4 linked regions of the Homo sapiens genome follow. The protein of the gene in region 3 interacts with the protein of the main gene of each other region in a pairwise test. Each region holds a gene or a part of one and is shown on either strand. Other genes may lie near its edges.

Evidence for each region.
Region 1: the proteins of CLIP4 (region 3) and MAP7D1 interact in a two-hybrid assay, tested with the Homo sapiens proteins (one large-scale study listed by BioGRID and IntAct).
Region 2: the proteins of CLIP4 (region 3) and DCAF6 interact in a two-hybrid assay, tested with the Homo sapiens proteins (one large-scale study listed by BioGRID and IntAct).
Region 4: the proteins of CLIP4 (region 3) and TNNT3 interact in a two-hybrid assay, tested with the Homo sapiens proteins (one large-scale study listed by BioGRID and IntAct).

What each region holds. Positions count from the first base shown.
Region 1 is NC_000001.11:36,154,408-36,159,451, reverse strand, and holds the start of MAP7D1 (MAP7 domain-containing protein 1), read right to left. Parts: upstream 3,293-5,044; 5' UTR 3,035-3,292; coding exon 2,989-3,034; intron 1-2,988. UniProt on the Homo sapiens protein: Microtubule-stabilizing protein involved in the control of cell motility and neurite outgrowth. Facilitate microtubule stabilization through the maintenance of acetylated stable microtubules.
Region 2 is NC_000001.11:167,942,621-167,947,174, reverse strand, and holds part of DCAF6 (DDB1- and CUL4-associated factor 6), read right to left. Parts: intron 1-4,554. UniProt on the Homo sapiens protein: Ligand-dependent coactivator of nuclear receptors. Enhance transcriptional activity of the nuclear receptors NR3C1 and AR. May function as a substrate receptor for CUL4-DDB1 E3 ubiquitin-protein ligase complex.
Region 3 is NC_000002.12:29,142,567-29,147,120, reverse strand, and holds part of CLIP4 (CAP-Gly domain-containing linker protein 4), read right to left. Parts: intron 3,413-4,554; coding exon 3,176-3,412; intron 1,890-3,175; coding exon 1,754-1,889; intron 1-1,753.
Region 4 is NC_000011.10:1,918,013-1,922,994, reverse strand, and holds the start of TNNT3 (troponin T, fast skeletal muscle), read right to left. Parts: upstream 3,293-4,982; 5' UTR 3,233-3,292; intron 1,634-3,232; exon of another isoform or gene 1,376-1,633; intron 165-1,375; exon of another isoform or gene 139-164; 5' UTR 121-138; coding exon 104-120; intron 1-103. UniProt on the Homo sapiens protein: Troponin T is the tropomyosin-binding subunit of troponin, the thin filament regulatory complex which confers calcium-sensitivity to striated muscle actomyosin ATPase activity.

The DNA.
Region 1 (5,044 bases), on a different chromosome or scaffold from region 3:
CTGCCTTCTTGTCCTATACTTACCTCCTACAATTCTAATCAATCACATCTCAGGCTTCTGACGGAATTAAAAATAATGACAAAAAACAAATAGCTAGGCTGGGGGTGGTGGCTCACGCCTGTAATCCCAGCGCTTTGGGAGGCCAAGGTGGGAAGATCACGAGGTCAGGAGTTCGAGACCAGCCCGGCCAATGTGGCAAAACCCTGTCTCTACTAAAAATACAAAAATTAGCCGGGCGCGGTGGCAGGCGCCTGTAATCCCAGCTACTCGGGAGGCTGAGGCAAGAGAATCGCTTGAACCTGGGAGGCGGAGGTTGCAGTGTGCCGAGATCGTGGCATTGCACTCCAGCCTGGGTGACAAGAGCAAGACTCTGTCTCAAAATAAATAAATAAATAAATAAATAAATAAATAAATAACAAATGGCTAGCACTTATTGGGCACTGGCTATGTGCCAGGGCCTAGTCTAAGTGTTTTCTGTTTTCATCTAATTTAAGGATGCCAATGTCTCTATGAGATAATTTCTAGCATTATTCTCATTTTACAGATGAGCAAACTTAAGACTTAGGTTAAGCAACTTACTGAGGTCACACAGAGGTAAGTTACGAAGTGGAGACTTAAACTGTTTAATTCCAAAATCTACACTCTTAAACAAATCGACTTCCAATTCCTGCTCCCACCCTCCCCTATATTTCATACCTCCCTGCTGGCACCGGTTGCAGAAGCATAACCACAATAATGGTAATAACACTTTATTGCAGGTGTCTGGTGTCTGCGTGCCAGATTCCTTGAGTTAAATCATCTCTAACCCTCACATTAACCCCACAAGGTTGACAACACTGCCCCTATTTTCCAGGGGCAGAAACTGTGGCTCCAGGAGGTAAGTCACTTGCTCCAGTCCAGTAGCCAGTACATGGCTAACTGGGATTTCCATCCAGGTTTTCTGACCTGAAAGTGGTCCCCACACTTGTCCTCTACTCCACACCACCCCCTGTTACTGCTCAGTGTCCAAGTGCAAAAAGGAACTCAGAGGGAGCAGGGTTCGTGTCACATGCTCTCGGAGTGTCAGGCCCATGCCTCAGACTATCACAGGGCACATGCTGTGAGCACATTTACTCCCAGAAAGCCCCACAGAGGACTCCTGTCACCTTTGACTATTCTGTGTGGGGAACTGCCACCATCCTGATCCAGGTTCTCATGTGACTCCATCTAGATCCCTGTGTATAGAAGAGTCCTCTCAATGCAAGAAGCCTATATGCAGTCTGCCCACCGGCCCCTGACGCAGCCCTCCCCGCCCACCGAACATCCCCCCTGCCCCTAGGAGAGCCAAGCATCTCACCCATGCTCTCATATTCAGTCTAGGCATCCTACCCAAGTATCCTAATTATAAACTAGCCACCAGCTCAGGCTCTGTATCCCAGTCACCACCCCCATTCAGGCCCCCAACTATCCAGTGCCAGAGGCCCTCAGGTGCAGAGGGCCAGTAAGCTGAGGTTGGACTCAGGCTGGGCCTCCCTGGGTGTCCCCTCTCAGGTTCAGCCAAACCAGGACAGACCCAGCCACCCTTGTTTCCAGCCCAGCCTACAAGCCTCCTGAAACCCACCAGTCTGATGGTAGCCTCCCCTCCCTGTTCTCCCAGGTCCCACACCCAGACAGTCCCCTAGAAGCATCCTCGCTGGCATGGGGAGGAGCCCACCCACAGCCCATTGGCCCCACCTTATCCTGGGCTCTCCGCACCCACACGAACTGTTTCATCCTGTGCCCACACCCCAAGGGGCAGGGAGGTGACAGGATTAGGCTCAGGACTCCATGGGGGTGTGGGGATGGGGCCACCTCCCCCCTGAGTCAATGGGAACAGAACTTGGGTCTTCAATAATCATGTTCTTCCCTCCCCTTCCAGGAAGAAAGAGAAATCGCCTCCCTCCAAAACCAAGCCCAACCAGAAACCTGTCCCCACCCCCTCATCAGCTGCTCCCAGATCCGAATGGGATTTGCAGAAGTCCTGAGCACTGGTGGTTGGTGGGGTGAGGGAGGGGAGGGGAGCTTTGGTGGTCTAAGGTGTGGGCAGAAAGAGAGAAAAAAAGAGAGTAAGGGGGGAGGTATCAAAGCCTCAGGCTGGGGAATGATGTGGCAGGTCCAGGGAGTGCCGGCTTGGAGCCTTTACCTCATTCTCTAGTGGGAGATTGGGGCCCAGAGAGGCTGGGAAGGAGGGCAGGCAGGAGAAGCAGATTTACTTCTGTCCCCCTCCTCCCCGAATCAGGCTGGGTGGGCTCCAGAGTAGGCCTGGCTGCAGGGGAGGCGGCCCACTCCCCAGCTCCCGCCCTCACCCCAAACAATGCCGCCTCCCCCTCCCCCTCGCCTTTATCCGGCGGGTTACTTGGCAGCAGCGGCTAGAGACCTCCCTCTCTCCTCCCCTCCCTCCTTTCCCCTCCCCGCCGGCCCGCAGCAGCAACAGGCCCTTTGCGCGGCAGCTGGACGGATGGGGTGGGGGCGAGGTCTGGGCCAGGGCCTGAGGGTACGGGCACTAAGGCCGAGGCGTCGGTATGCAGGGCCCAGGCCTGAGAATATGGACCCCCGACACACTCAGGCTGGGGTCACATGTGCCACGGGGGATGGGGAAGGGGACGGAAGCCCTAGCTCAGTAGAAGAGGATCTTCAAGGCCCGGGGTGAATCGGGAAGGGACGTGGGGGCGGGGAAGCTGAGATGGCACTAAGCTGGGGCAGAAGGGTCACCCCAACAACTCCCGCGCGGGGTCCCTGCGGCTCCCGACGCCCGATGCGTCCGGCACCCGGGGTGGGGGAGGGGGCAGCTGTCAGAGGATGCATCGCGAGCCTGGAGCCGCCGCCGCCGCAGCCTTTATTTTTAAACTTCCAAGTGGTCAGAGGGCGCGGCAGCGGAGGGGTCCCCGCCCAGCCGGCCGGCCTCATCCTCGGCCGCCCTGCAGCCCCTCCATCTACCCCCATCTCGCCTCCGCGTGGCTCCCGGCATACCTGGGGGTGCGCCCGCCCCCAGCTCCGCACGCGGGCCGCTCTCCATGGCTGCGGCGTCACTGGGGGTCTCGGGGTCTCAGCGGCGGCGGCGGCGGCGGCCAGTGGCCAGGACAGGGGTCCCGCGGCGCATCACGCCCGGCCCGGCCCGGCCCGGCAAGTAGCGACTCGGAGGCGGGGGCGCTCCGGGGAAGGTCGAGGCAGGTGGCCCGCGAGTCTCGGAGGTGCCGGTCGCCCGGGGTCTCTCGGCTGCGGTCGCGAACCCGTTCCCCGCCCGGCGCCGGCCCAGTCCCGGCCTCGGCCCAACCCTATTGTACCGCCCGGGCTGGGCCTGGCCTCTCGCTGGCGCGTACCAAGTTCGAGGCGGGGGGGTCCACCCCAGCAGCGCCCCGGGACCCAGCCCCCCGCGCCCGCGCCGTCCGCGCCGTTCGCGCCGCCCCCGCCCCGGAGCCCCGCGCCCGCAGCCTCCCGGCGCCTCTCCCACGGCCACGGCCGAGCGGGCTCCACGGCTCCAGGAGTTCGCCGCGCTAGCTGCCTCCCCCTGCGTCCGCGTCTTGGTACGCGCCGCAGCGCCTGAGGACTAAGTAGGGAGCGCTCGGGTGACTCACCCGCCGCGGGGACTGGGGGAGAGGGGGAGCAGGGCTGGGACTCCCCTTTCCCACCCTGGAGTTTGGGGGCTCTGGCACTGGGGCTGAGAGGGCAGCTTCGAGTCCAAATTCTCGCTCAAACCCACCTAAACCAAAGCGGCCCGGGGGACGTCGGGAGGCATGAAGGAGAGTCACAAGGAGACCCCTGAAAGGGTTTCGCTTTCTCTCCCCTGCTGATGGCTGGGCTGGGGACAGGTCTGGGAGCCTTGCTGCCGCCCTTGCTCCGGCATTCTGCGCTTGTGTCTTCCCTGCTCCTCTGGGGGTAATTACAGCCCTGCGCAGCTGCCTTACCCAGGTCTCTAATCTGCTGGGTCCCTCCCGGCTCCAAACTGGGTGGTCCTAGCCCTGGACCTCCCCCACCCCCACCAGACGACCCCGCCAATCACCCCAGAAGGATTTTCTCCCAGTGGTCTGTCGATGAGGGGGTGGTGACCCCCTCCAGAATCCACTCCCCAAAGTAGCCCTGCTTCCCAGCCCTCCAGAATGGACTCCCAGCCCCCTTGTTGGTGCCAGCTGAGGTGAGGGCTTCAAGCCAAGCCAGGCCCAGCCCGGGGCAGAGTGGGGAGCTTGCTGGGAAGGTGGATGGATGATGGTGGTGCTGCTGCAGGGACTTGGGTTGCGGGGGAGGAGGAGGGGCAGCTGTGCCCTGCCCACCCTGGCCCTGCCCTTTGTCCTGACTTCTAGAAGGTCAGTTCTCTAGTTCTTCATTGTCCAGAGATTAGGCCCAGTGAGATACTGTCCCCCTTGCCCCCCTTCCCTCCAGTTTCTCCTTCCTTTAAGCAGCTCCAGAAAGCGGCCATTTGGAGGGATAGAGTGGGAAACAAAAGGGTCAGGGGCTCAGGCAACCTGGGAGCAGCCTGTCCTGGGATGTGTGCGTATCTGGGGGCTTGGACACTCTTGGGAAGGCCTGGGAAGGGAATAGTGTCCCCTCTGGCCCAAAAACATTAGAAAAGGATGATGATAGAAGGGCGGCAACTGGAGCCAGTAACCTTGAGCTAGTGACTTAACTTTTCTAAAATCTAATTTGCTCTCCTACAAAATCAGAAAAATAGTAGTGCCATGAGGTATCTTGGGGTCTTTGTAAAGATTAAATAAGGCAATGGAAATGAAGTGCTGAGCACAGAACCTGGCATCTAGGAAGTGCTCAGTAAACAAGTATAATGGTGATGAAGGCATTGATGAGTAAAAGTGGAAGGACGAGGAGCAGATCCCCCATCTTTGTGTCAGTCATCTTATCTGCAGGGTGGGGGGACTGCGGGGATGACGGAGTTCATGACAGTCCTTTGTGAGGTCAGGGGCCTCACAGCCTGCCTCTTCCAGAGCTGGACAGGCCAGACCTGACTCAGGCAGTGACCAGACTCAGGAGAATTCAGGAACACGTATGGGGAGAGAGCCCTCTGGAATGGTTCTTC
Region 2 (4,554 bases), on a different chromosome or scaffold from region 3:
TATAATGAACTATATACTCATAAACTAGAAAACCTACAGGAAATAGATACATTCCCAGAAAAACACAACCTACCAAGAATGAACCAGAAAGAAACAGAAAATCTGAATAGACCAATAATGAGCAGCAAGAATTAATCAGTAATTTTTACAATCTCCCAACAAAGAAAAGCCCAGTACCAGATGGCTTCACAGCCGAATTCTACCAAATGTACAAAGAAGAAGTAATATCAATACTCCTGAAACTATTCCAAAAAATCAAGGACAGGCCTCTCCCTAACTTATTCTATAAGGCCATTATCGCCCTGATAACAAAACCAAAGAAGGACACAAAACAAAGGATACAGAATAAAAAGAAAACTACAGATTAATGAACACAAATGCAAAAATCCTCAACAAAATACTAGCAAACCAAATCCAACACCAAATCAAAAAGATAATACACCATGATCAAGTGGGTTTTATACCAGGAATGCAAGGATAGGTCAACATATGCAAATCAATAAATGTGATACATCATATCAACAGAATGAAGGGCAAAAACCATATGATCATCTTAATAGACGCGAAAAAAGAATTTAATAAAATTCAACATCCCTTCATAAGAAAAACCCTTAGTAAACTAGGCACAGAAAGATCATACCTCAAAATAATAAAGGCCATATATGATAAACCTGTAACTAACATCATACTGAATAGGGAAAAGATGAAAGCATTCCTTTAAGAACTGGAAGAAAACAAGGATGCCTACTTTCACCACTCTTCAATATAGTATTGGAAGTCCTAACCAGAGCAATCAGGCAAGAGAATGAAACAAAAGGCATCAAAATTATAAAGGAAGGAGTCAAATTATCCCTGTTTCCTGATGATATGATCTTATATCTAGAAAAACCTAAAGACTCCCCACAAAAACTCTTAGATTTGCCAGGCGCGGTAGCTCATGCCTGTAATCCCAGCACTTTGGGAGGCTGAGGTGGCCAGATCACCTGAGGTCAGTAGTTCAAGACCAGCTGGCCAACATGGTGAAACCCTGTCTCTACTAAAACTACAAAAATTAGCCGGGTGTGGTGGCACATGCCTGTAATCCCAGCTACTCGGGAGGCTGAGGCAGGAGAATCACTTGAACCCGGGAGGCAGAGCTTGCAGTGAGCTGAGATTGTGCCATTGCACTCCAGCCTGGGCAACAGAATGAAATTCTGTCTCAAAAAAAAAAAAAAAAAAACCCTTAGATTTGGTAAATGAATTCAGTAAACTTGCAAGATACAAAATCAACATACAAAAATTAGTAGTGTTTCTACACACCAATAATGATTCAAAATGAAAACCAAATCAAGAACACAATCCCATTTACAATAGCTACAAATAACAAAAAAAAAAAGGCCGGGTGTGGTGGCTCACGCCTGTAATCCCAGCACTTTGGGAGGCCAAGGTGGGTGGATCACAAGGTCAAGAGATCGAGACCATCCTGGCCAACATGGTGAAACCCTGTCTCTACTAAAAATACACACACACACAAAAATTAGCTGGGCATAGTGGTGCGCACTTGTAGTCCCAGCTACTCTGGAGGCTCAGGCAGGAGAAGTGCTTGAACCTGGGAGCCGGAGGTTGTAGTAAGCCGAGATTGTGCCACTGCACTCCAGCCTGGGTGACAGAGTGAGACTCCGTCTCAAAAAAGAAAAAAAGAAAAAAGAAATTATAAACACACACATACACACACACACAAACTAGGAATATATTTAACCAGAGGTAAAATCCCTACAAGGAGAACTACAAAACACAGCTAAAAGAAATTATACATGACACAAATGGAAAAACATCCCATGATCACTGGATATTCAGAAGAATATCATTAAAATGACCATACTGTACAAAGCAGCCTACATATTCTATACAATCCCTATCAAAATACCAAGTTAATTTTTTGCAAAATTAGAAAAAACAATCCTAAAATTCATATGGAACCAAAAAGAAGCCCCAATAGCCAAAGCAATGCTGAGCAAAAAGAATAAAGCTAGAGGCATCACATTATCTAACTTCAAATTATATTACAAGACTATACTAACCAGAACAGCAGGTTACTGGTATAAAAATAAGACACACAGGTCAATGGAACAGCATAGAGAACCCAGAAATAAAGCCGCATACTTGCAGCCAACTGATGTTTGACAAAGCCGACAAGAACATACACTGTGGAAACGAAACCCTCTTCAATCAATGGTGCTGAGAAAATTAGATATCCATATGCAGAAGAATGCAATTGAACTCTTATCTCTCACTAATACATAAAAATCAACTCAAGGTGGATTAAAGACTTAAGTGTAAGACCCAAAACTATAAAGATACTAGAAAACAGACAAATGGGACTCAATTAAACTAAAAAGCTTCTGCATGGCAAAAGAAATAACAGATTGAAGAGACAACCAATCCTGTTGAATGACAGAAAATATCTGCAAATTATTCATCCAACAGGGGACTAATATCCAGACTACACAAGGAACTCAAACGATTCAACAACCAAAAAAATCTAACAATCCTATTAAAAAGTAGGCAAAACACATGAATAGACATTTTTCAAAAGCATACACCCAACAGGTATATGAAAAAATGCTCAACATTACCAGTCATAAGAGAAATGCAAATCAAATTCACAATGAGATATCACCTTATCCTAGTCAGAATGTCTTTTATTAAAAAGACAGACAATGTTGGTTATCATGTGAAAAAAAGGGAACTCTTATATACCATTGGTGGGAATGTAAATTAGTACAGCCTCTATGGAAAACAGTATGGAGATTTCTCCAAGAATTAAAAATAGAACTATCTTTCCATCTAGCAATCCCACTACTAGATTTTTACAAAAAGAAAAGAAATTAATATATCTAAAAGATATGTGCACCAGTATGTTTACTGCAGCACTATTCACAACAGCAAAGATATGGAATCAACCTAAGTGTCCATCAATGGATGAACAGGTAAAGAAAATGTGGTATATATACACAATGGAATACTATTCAGCCATAACAAAGAATGAAATCAGGCTGGGCGTGGTGGCTCACCCCTGTGATCCCAGCACTTTGGGAGGCCGAGGCGGGCAGATCACAAGGTCGGGGGATCGAGGCCATCCTGGCTAACACTGTGAAACCCTGTCTCTACTGAAAATACAAAAAAAAAGTTAGTCAGGTGTGGTGGCGGGCACCTGTAGTCCCAACTACTTGGGAGGCTGAGGCAGGAGAATGGCGTGAACCTCGGAGGCGGAACTTGCAGTAAGCCGAGATCTCACCACTGCACTACAGCCTGGGCGACAGAGTGAGACTCCATCTCAAAAAAAAAATGAATGAAATCATGACATATACAGCAACGTGGATGGAACTAGAGGTCATTATCTTAGGTTAAACAAACCAGGCACACAAAGACAAGTATGATGTTCTGACTCATAAGTGTGTTCTAAACAAACGTGTTCACACAGATGCAGAGTGGAATGATACATAATGGAGTGGAAGAATGAGGAGGTGGGAGGATGATGAGAAATTCGTTAATGAGGACAAAGAACGTTATTCAGGTGATGGATACCTTAAAAGCCCTCACTTGACTGCAGCATAATCTATGCATGTAACAAAACTGCATATGTACCCATAAATTTGTACAAATAAAAAGTAAAAATAAATAAAAATATCATCTAAAATAGCATTACAAATATGAAATATTTAAGGATAAACCTAACACCAAAAAATACAAATCACTGCTGAGAGAATCAAAGAATGCTTAATACACGGAGACAAACCAGAACCACAGATGAGAAGATTCATATTGTAAACATGTCAGTTCTCCCTGAAATAATATATAGATTCAACACAAAATCCCAAGTCTTTTTGTAGAAATTGACAAGCTAGTTCTAAAATTTTTATGGAAATAGAAAGGGTTCAGAATAGCCAGGATAACTATAAATTTTTTTAAAAAAGACCAAATTTCGGCCAGGCGCGGTGGCTCACGCCTGTAATCCCAGCACTTTGGTAGGCCAAGGCGGGCAGATCACAAGGTCAGGAGATCGAGACCATCCTGGCTAACGCGGTGAAACCCCATCTCTACTAAAAAAATACAAAAAAATTAGCCGGGCGTGGTGGCGGGTGCCTGTAGTCCCAGCTACTCGGGAGGCTGAGGCAGGAGAATGGTGTGAACCCAGGAGGCGGAGCTTGTAGTGAGCCAAGATCGAGCCACTGCACTCCAGCCTGGGTGACAGAGCAAGACTCTGTCTCAAAAAAAAGACCAAGTTTAAAGTATCACACTAGCTGATTTCAATCCTCGGTATAAAGACATGAAGCTAGATCAATGGAATGTGGCTAGGAAATTGACTTAAACATTTATGGTCAATTGATTTTCAACAAAGGGAAAAAAGTAGTCTTTCCACACACTGTTAGATCAATTGCACATTAATATGCAAAGAAATGAAACTTGACTCTTACAACATATGTAAAACTTAACTCGAAATTGTTCACAGACCTAAATGTAAGAGGTAAAAAGATAAAATCTCCAGGAAAAAAAAAGTAAAAATCTTTGTTA
Region 3 (4,554 bases):
TCAAATTTTCAAACAATATGTAAAGATTTGGGGAAATTACACTAGGATATTAAATAAAAATGCAGAATTTTTACTTTCCTCTTGTTTTCAAATCTTATACAATCAGCATTTTTATAAACAAACAAAAAAAGTTTTAATAGACCAAAAAAATGAGATTCCATCCTAAGTGTGTGATGAAAGGAAACTAGTTAATTTTGATAAAAGCGTGATAGCCAACAGCTCTCATCTGTTGAGTGCTTACAGGGAATCATGCACTGTTCTAGGTGCTTTATACTTTTACCAACACATTTAATTCTTGCACTAGTCCTTATGATAGTGTCATCCCTATTTCACAGAAGACAACTGAGGCACAAGAAGAGAAAGACAGTCACATAGCTGGTAAGTAAAGAAATCGAATCACACAAAAGCAGTCAGACTCCAAAGTCCATCCGCTTCATCATCATCATCATACCACACCACCTCACCATCAGGCCACAAGATGAATACTACACAATCGTGGAAAACAATGTTCTAAAAGAATATTTCATTTCAAGGAAAAGTATTCACAACATAGTAAGTGACTACAAAATCAAATTGAAATCAATAGACAGGATAGGTGTGTGTGAGAGAGAGGAAGAATAAATTTACCTAAACATGTCAGAAAGAATTTACTTAAACATTTGTCAGAATTTACTTAAACATTTGTCAGAAAGAGAAAGAAACCTCGCAGAGTTTCAAAGAAACCTCAGGAATGCGGTCATAAAGTTGGCCTTGCTTGATTTTTCCAGTTTTCCAAGTTCTTCATGACCTCCAGAGCTCTGTACTTCCTTGATAACCAAGTCCCTCCCTTGGCCACAACACTACTAGGTGCAGGATTTGAGGGAGGTCTGCAGAGCTGGGCGTGCCCCTGGTCAGAGGCCTTCTCCCAATCACTATACTGCTGGCAGCAAGAATCAAGGGCAGCCCAACAGCTCACAGCCTACTAACGAAAAAACCCCTCTCATCACTGTCTCCCCACTAAAAGCCACCCAAGAGACCAGTCCCAAGAAAGACACTTTCCCAAAAACATCATTGAGACAATTCCATCAGATGCCCTCTTCACCAGTCACTACCAGACACCCTCCTAAACCTTTCCATCATGGCCTCTGAAATTCATGGTTGGCCAGGCACAGTGGCTCATGCCTGTAATCCCTGCACTTTGGGAGGCCAAGGTGGGCAGATAACCTGAGGTCAGGAGGTCGAGACCAGTCTGGCCAACATGGCGAAACCCTGTCTCTACTGAAAATACAACAATTATCCAGCCATGGTGGCAAATGCCTGTAATCCCAGCTACTCGGGAGGCTGAGGCAGGAGAATCGCTTGAACCTGGGAGGCAGAGGTTGCAGTGAGCCGAGATCGAGCCACTGCACTATAGCCTGGGCGACAGAGCAAGACTCCGTCTCAAACAAATAAATAAATAGTGGAAAGCTGCGCCTGATCTAATGCAAGGCTAACTCTTATACTGAAATCCTTTTCCCTTTCAAGTTTTTCAGGACTTTCCTCCTGGAAATGTCCCCTTTCTCTCCTGCAACCACCATTTCTCCCTCTCACGTCGCCTCTCGTCAGTGTAAATAAATATAACTATCTCCTATCTTTAAAAAGTCCTCCCTACATCCACATGCCCCTCATTTATCACATAAGAAATCAGGAGAAAAGTTTTATTTAACAACTGTAAAAGAGTAAAACTTGATTATTTTTAATTAATTCTTACCGAGTTAAATAATATCAACCTTACCATACTTGGGGGCACATTTAAAGTACTGGACTTTTCCAACACTTCCATTATTTTTTCCTTCTGGTTCATCCAGTTCAATGCCAGCCCACTGCCCACTTGCAAATTCAGTTGTTCCACAAAATCTTAATGTACCAACCTAAAGAAAATATAAACCAGAATAATTTTGGGGAATTATTAGTAATTCCAAGGGTCCTACTCTTGCAACTTTACTTCACCATGGGAGTTTTTAAAAATTCACTCTCTCAAAGTGAATTTTAAAAATTCGCTCTCTCAACATTACCTTTTTATGCTTGGTAATGTTCCTTGCTCTCACTTCAGAGCCAGGAACATTACCAAGGATGAAAAAGAACATTAAATAATAATAAGGGAGTCAATTTCCAAGAAGACATAAGAATCCTAATTAGCTGGATAGTAGCACACACCTGTAGTTCCAGCTACTACAGGGGCTGAGGCAGGAGGGTTGCTTGAGCCCAGGAGTTCGGGGCTACAGTGACCTATGACTGTGCCACTGCACTCCAGCCTAGGCATCAAAGTGAGACTCTTCTCAAAAAAAAAAAAAAAAAAAAAAAGGGATATAACTATGTTGGGAAACTCAATATCCAAGCAGGAATTCCCTGTTCCATTCTCCATACCAAGCTCCCTATTAACCTCAATATTAAGAAAAAACTGAAGGGACAGGGCTAGGGGAGGGATAGCATTAGGAGAAATACCTAATGTAGATGACGGGTTGATGGGTGCAGCAAATCACCATGGCACACGTATGCCTACGTAACAAACCTGCATGTTCTGTGCATGTATTCCAGAACTTAAAGTATAATAAAATAATTAAAAAAAGAAAAAACAAGAAAACCTCCCATATGAGATATTTTTAAAAAGCAACTGGCAATAAATGAATACAATATGGAAACAAAAGCTTGGGAGGAAAAAAGGTGTCTGGATGATGGGAGTAGGAGTCCTCTTTTCCACACAAATCCTTATCACCAGGTTACATAATATCTCAGACTGCCCTATTTGTGGGAACCCAAAGACAAACACCCATGAACAGCAAGGGTCTCCTGTGCTCCATTTCTATGGAGGAGCAGCAGTCAGAGAAGTACCACTGGGGAAAGAGGGGACTGCAAAGATAATCCTCCACCTTAGATCATCCCTTAGCTCATGCTTCTAAATTCACTCAAGAGTTCTACTCCACTCCACTCTTTATTCAAATAAAGATGTCTTCTTTATTAAGTTCAAGTAGTTTATATTCTTAAAGCATAACTTAACAGTAAATTCATATCTAAGTTTTACATTTTCCATTAAGCATCTTTCTACCTACATGTTGAACCTTTTTCAAAAACTCAAAACTCTGACCATACTGTGTCCTTGAACATAGGTCATGGACATAACAACCCTGGCTTCAGAGATTGCAGTTACTTACTGTACCTTCTGTCCTGCAATAACAACACGATCCCCCAACTTCAGGCCAAGTGACGTAAGCATTGCCTTGCCAGTGACATGATCATAATTTGGGAGCATGGCCTTTGAGATGTTACATGACAGAGGCACCGCATCTAGAAGCATCTGCTTGATTTCCTTAGCAGTGGCTGCGGCGTCAGCCATCTCTAACGGCATATCTACTGGGTCTGGAACAACATCAGCAGGGATCTGTCCTTTGTCATTCTACAAATAAAGATAAGAGAAAAATGTTCAACTCTTACTTAGAGCACTAGAAAGTCATATAAAATTTCTGTTGGAAGAACTTTACGTTAAATTCATTCATCATTTGTTTATTCAAAAACATTTCCTGAACGCCTACAATATGCAGACACCATTCTAGGTGCTAAAGATCCTACAGTGAAAAAAACACAAGCCCTGCCCTCAAGGAACATTACATTCTGGTGGGAGAGATAGACCATACAACATTAAACAAGTAAATTATATGTGGCATAATAAACAGTCATAAGTGGCCTGGAGGGAAAAAAAAAAAACAGGGAAGGGGAATAGGAAATGTGGAGACAGAGATGGTTGTAGGGGAAACTCTTTAGATTAAGTGGTCAGGGAGGCCTCACTGATGAGATGCATCTCCACAGAGATCCAAAGCAGACCAGGGAGGAGCTGTGCAGGTTCTCTGGCAGGGAAAAGCAAGGCGTCCATGTGGGGAGCGGTGCTCAGGTCCTAAACGGAGAGCATTCTGCCCGCAGAGGCATGAGAAAGCAAGCTTGGAAACAAAAGTCACAGGACTGACGCTTCCCAGCCCCAGATCCATGGTTCCAGAGCTGCCCTCTTGGCTCTGTGACCTCAGCCCCCTGCCCATTCATGGGGTAACTCAGATTTCAAAACTAGAAACTATGGTTTTGATACTACTAAAACCTGGGCTATAATCAAGAAAAAAGCTCTGTTTTCACTATGACAGAAAGACTGTATCCTGGGATTTGTCCTGTGACAAGATAAAATGGCCAATGACAACCCCACGGTCATTTGCATGGTATATGTATCATAAAAGCCCTATCATATGAATTATCTGTCATCTTACATTCCCTAACCAAAAACCTTAGACTTCATGAGAAATAATTTAGATTGTAATCTTCTTTTAATATAAAGAATAAAGATACTTTTGTTAACTGAGAAACTTTTTTCCCTTTCTTCACTGATACAATCTTCTTCAAATGATTCACATGGAAAAATGAACGAGGCTTTTAGAACACACTTAGTTTGCAATTGCTTCGCATTTTTTTGTTTTAAAATTCAAGTCAGGTTGGTCCTTAGTAGAAATATGGCAAGAAGATATGTTATTAGATGTCTAGGATGGTAATGGACTCTTC
Region 4 (4,982 bases), on a different chromosome or scaffold from region 3:
CTTTGCTTGGACTTGTGCAAGATAGCGCATGCTCCAGCCCCACAGAAGCCAAGGGGCCAGGGTCCCGAGCCAGGCAGGGGGCAGCCACCAGCTGGGTACTCACACTTCCTCGTCAGACATGGTGAAGGTGGGTGGTTTCTGCAGAGAGAGATTCAGAGAGAGAGAGAGAGAGAGGATGGAAAGAGAGTTACGAGCTGCCTGGGTGTAGGATGGGGGATGGGGTCTTGGAGCAGCGCTGTGGGGGACCGCGGGCAGGGTTTGGGGGCCAGCTCTGGCCTTGGGTGAGTCCACCTCCTTGGGCCTCCCCTTTCTCCAGGGCTCCTGGCCCCTCCCAGCTCTTGGCGCCCCAGACTCTGTCCCCTCTTCCTGCCCTGGCTCCAGACTGGAGCTTGGAATCTTGGAGCTGGAAGGGATGTTGGAAGGTCGTGGCGTCCACCCCCACCCAGGGCAGACATCCTCTCCGTGGCGTCCCCTGAGGAGGGTCATCCAGAATGCAGGCCGTGTGCCGTCCAGCCCGCTCTAGACACTGGAAAGGTCCCGCTGATGGAGCTGAAACCTGTCTCTGGGTGTTCTCTGCCCAGTGGGTGTAGGTGGGGTCTCCCTGGGAGCCCCTGGATGACCGAGACTGGCTCCCCAAGATGAGTAATCTGCTCACCCTACCATTCCCCATGAGAACCCCTCTTCCCTATTTGAGCCCAAAGCTCCCTTCTGTGCCTGTTTTCCTATGGGGTGCCCAGAGTGTGTCCCACCACACCCCTCTGAGGACCCCTCCTCCAAGATCACAGAGCAGGGAAGCTGTTCCTTCTTGTTACCCCTGTACCCTGAAAACATTGAGGCTGAGCCCCAGAGCACGTTGGGTTGGGTCTGGGCCGCTTCCCGTGCACCCCCCCGGGCCGGGCTCTGTACAAGGCATACTTGGACTGCAGGAGCCCACAGAACAGCCCCCCCATTTCCCTCCCTGTGGCCGCTTTCCCTGGTCCCGGGGATGCTCTGGATCTGTCCCTGTCTAGGGGAAGCTCCATGCCCAGGACTGGCTGCCCTGTCCATGTGCGGTGGTGGCGCCAGGCCAGCATGCTGGGGACCGTCTCTCTGTGAGCTGGCCACCGTGCACACTGGGCGGCCAGGCCTGGGGAGGCTCTGAGCAGCTGCACCGGCATGTTGGCCAGGGTTTTAGAAAACAAAGTTCATTACAACACAGTACAGATTACTCGAAGACAATAGCTACGGTCCCCCCTGGGAGTGTTGTATAAGGAAAACACACGTTCATCAGCTAAAAATGCATCTACGTTGCACTGCTGAGGTGGGAACCGTTTTCCAAACCCTCTGTCAAGAATGTTAATTTTCCCAGAGCAACTTAAGCTCCATGCAAAATTACCCAGCAGATAGCTGTCTTCCAGGCAACGGGGGTAGCTTTTTCCTATCCCAGAATCTCTTCCTGAGACTCTGCTGCCCCTCAGGTTAAGCCTCTTGTAACTGCCACGGCTGGGCCAGGCTCTCCTCAGTCCTCAGCCCCACGAGCCAGTGTTGTCCAGGCCCCCGGTGTGACCCAGTCCCAGGCTGCCCACCAGCCCCTCGTGCTGTCCTCCCAGCTGGTTCAGGCCCCAAACGCCACAGACTCCTCTAGGGCCATCCTCTGTAAGGAGGAGGAGGGTCAGTGAAGGGAGGGAGCGGAGCCTGGCCCCGCCCTGCTGTGCCCAGCCCGACGCTGGCGGGGCAGACACCTGTCGGCTGCCACAAGATGGGGGCAGCGTGGCCCTCGCCTGGGGTGGGTTATTTATAAGGAGCCAGTGGCAGCTGAGGTGTCCAGAAATAGGCAAGACGTTTCTGCCCAGAAACCCAAGACGTGGGTGAGGCGGGTGTGACAGCCCAGCCCTCCTTGGCCCACAGCTGCCCCCTCACCCTCGGGCACCCAGGCCCTCCCCAGCTCCTCATATTTCCCTCCTGTCCCCCCAGGCCAGAGTCACATGGGTGCCCCAACACCCTCAGGCAGGGTGACCTCCAGGCCCCCCGACGTGCGCTGGAAAGGCCCACTCTCCAAGTGGGGAAACTGAGGCACCTGGTTTTCTGCTGAGCGCCTGGAAGCAACACAAGGCTGTTCTGTTCCCCCCAGTATGGCCTGTGTCATTGCCTCTGTTGCGGGGAGGGGCTGGTGGCAGGGGTGTGCTGGGGGCAGGGGTGTGCTGGGGGCAGGGGATGGCATTTCAACAGCTGAGACGCAAAGCAGGTGTCCAGTTAGTGCCTGCCTTGGAGGGGCTGCGTGAAAATAACCTATGCGGTCAGTTTCTTCGGGCACGTATGCATCACCTTTCCCTCCTTGGGAGGTGACGGGGCCAGGGCAGGGTGGGGAGGCAAAAGCCGCTGCCCCTTGCTTGCTGTGGCCCTGACCATGCCCCCAGACCTGTTCTCCACCCAGCCAACCTTTGCTTTGCCCCATGTCCCTCCGTGGACTTCAGGAGGGGCAGCCAAGGCCTGATCAGACGGCACAAGTCAGGGGGACCGTGTCCAGGGCAGGGAGGGTGGGTGGGGGCTCTTACGAGCGCCAGCTTCTCCAGCCTCCAGCCAGGGGGACGCGATGAAGCCCAGCCCCTCACTCTTGCCCCGTCCTGCCCCAGTCCAGCCCCTGTCCACTTCTGTCCTGCACCTCCAGACGCTGGCCCCCAAGGCTGCGTGGGCTTTAGACGCCCCCACCCCAACACACTCGGGCTGGCCATACAGGAGCCCCTGCCCTCCTGTCCTCGTTTTCATCTCTACAAAATGGCGGTGTTGGAGGCCCAGGTGCGAGAGCTGCATGGCAAGGCCAGGACGGGCCTGGGCAAATGTCTGCATGGCGACCACAAGCTGGCAACCTAAGCCCTGGCAGCACCCCTGCACAGCCTCTTCCCTGCCGCTCACAGCCCGCACCTCTCTGCCTCCTGCCCTCAGGCCACTCCCTAGCACTGAGCTTCCCTGAGCCCCGACTTGCCCCCTCCTGGCCTCCCACACTCTGCCTTCTTCTGCATCCTCCCGGTGCTGAGACCATCACACCACCATGTCCGCATCCCAGACTCTCCGGACGCTGGAGCAGCCACCTGGGGGCTCCGAGCCATGATGCTTCGAGATGCTCGGCACCACACGGACCTGGGACCTCAGCGCCCCAGGACCCCAGAGTGTCCCTGGAACGAGGGGCTGTCCACCCGCACGCAGGAGGCCCCGTCGGCCCCAGTCCTGGGTGGCCGCTCCTGCCTATACCCACCTGCGGGTCGAGTGTGAGAAGGGCTGGAGCTCCCTGTGGACAGCACCGGCTGCAGGCACTGGCGCCCGGCTCACACCCTCGTGTTATAGTGACATTTGATCTTCCTAGGAGCCCATTGGCCAGTGACTGGGTGGCCGGGGTGTGTGCGGAGTCTTGCTGGGGGGGGCTATGCCCGTGCAGGCCCCTTACCAAGTATAGGAATGGCCAGAGGAGGAGGCTGAAGGAGGCCAGGATGCAGAGGACGTGCTTGGAGAAGGAGGCAAGGTCCTCCCTCCGCCTCCAGGAGGTGTCAGCTGCTATTTTTACTCCCAGCAGCGGGTACATTCTGGATGGGCTGAGGAGGGAGGAGGAAGGTGTTGGGTGGCCCCGGGGCACCAAGCCGAGGCTCTCTTTGGGCCAAACTAGTGTGGGGGTCCCCAGAGCCAGGCTGCCGGGTTTCCCACCCCCCCGCCCCTTCTCTCTGAGATGTTCTGTGGGAGTAAACATTTGTCCAGGAAAAGGGTCCGCACAGCCGGGGTCCCCTCCCGCCGCCCGGCCCAATGCCCCAGGCCCTTCGCTGTCTCCCCCGGGGAGGAAGCAGCCTGAGGCCTCGGAGACCCCCCATGGAACTGAGGCCAGGCCCCCACCCTATCTGAGACCCTCTTAGAGGCCAGCTCTGCTTTCCTGGCTAGACACCGTTGGGGCCTACACAATAAGCGGGCGAGGGACATGGCCAGGCTGGCTGCAGTCCGAGTCTGCCATACCTCCCCCCGGGGCTGCTGCCATTGCAGGGGGCTACACATGGAGTTTGCTGGGTAAGGGTCTGGGTCCTCCCTCTAGGCCCTTTCTAACCCTGGGGCCCCACCCTGGGCACTCGCAGTGGCCGTTACCATCTGTGCCAGCATCTCCCACAGGCTCATTGTGGCGTGTGGAGACTGGTTTTCTTTCCTCAGGACTCCAGGTGGCACCGTCCGACTAGCAGACATCCTTCCTGGCCTCTGATGGCCTGTATGCTGGCCAGTGAGGCCACCAGATTGGATAACCCTGCCTCTTGGATCAGGGAAACTGAGGCACCAGGTGGGGGAGAGCAGTCTGGCACCCTGACCCACCCCCTCACTCCCCTCAGACCCCACAGGCTGAGCGTGGGCGGTGGTGTCTGCGGAACTCTTCGGTTCAGGCACAGATTGGTTCCTTCTTGGCCAGCGCCCAGGACAGGGGTGAGTCCCGAGAGGCACAGATGAGGTCCCTGTCCTCCCCAGGCTTAGAGTCAGGGACAACAGGATAACCCGGCAGGGGCTCACAGTGCCCTGGGGCCGGGTCGGGGGCCTTCCGGAAGGCTGTGGTTGGCACCTCATTCCACCCCTCCATGGAAGAGCGAGGCCGCAGAGCCCAGGGACAGGCAAGGTGTGCCTGGGGTCACACGACAAGGCGGGCTGGCCCCAGGCTGCCATTTCAAAGGACAGGGCCGGTCCCCTGCCTGCCTCCCGCTGAGTGCCCGGCACTGGGAAGGCTCTTGGAGCTGGGGTTGCTGGGAACGTCGCCGTCCTCCTGCTCTGGGTCTGTGGCTTCGTCTGCATTCCACGCCTTCCCCTCCCTGTCCATGTCCTCGATGGGCAAGGCTTTGGGGGCCACAAACAGCCCTGGCCCCTGGATATCTGTGACCAGCTTCCTGCCCACTGGGGACATCTGCAGAACTGCTCCCTCAGAGGCACGTGAGCGGGTCCCTGGGGGTCAGCGGGCCCACCCCATCCTCTCCCATGGTGGGGCCAAC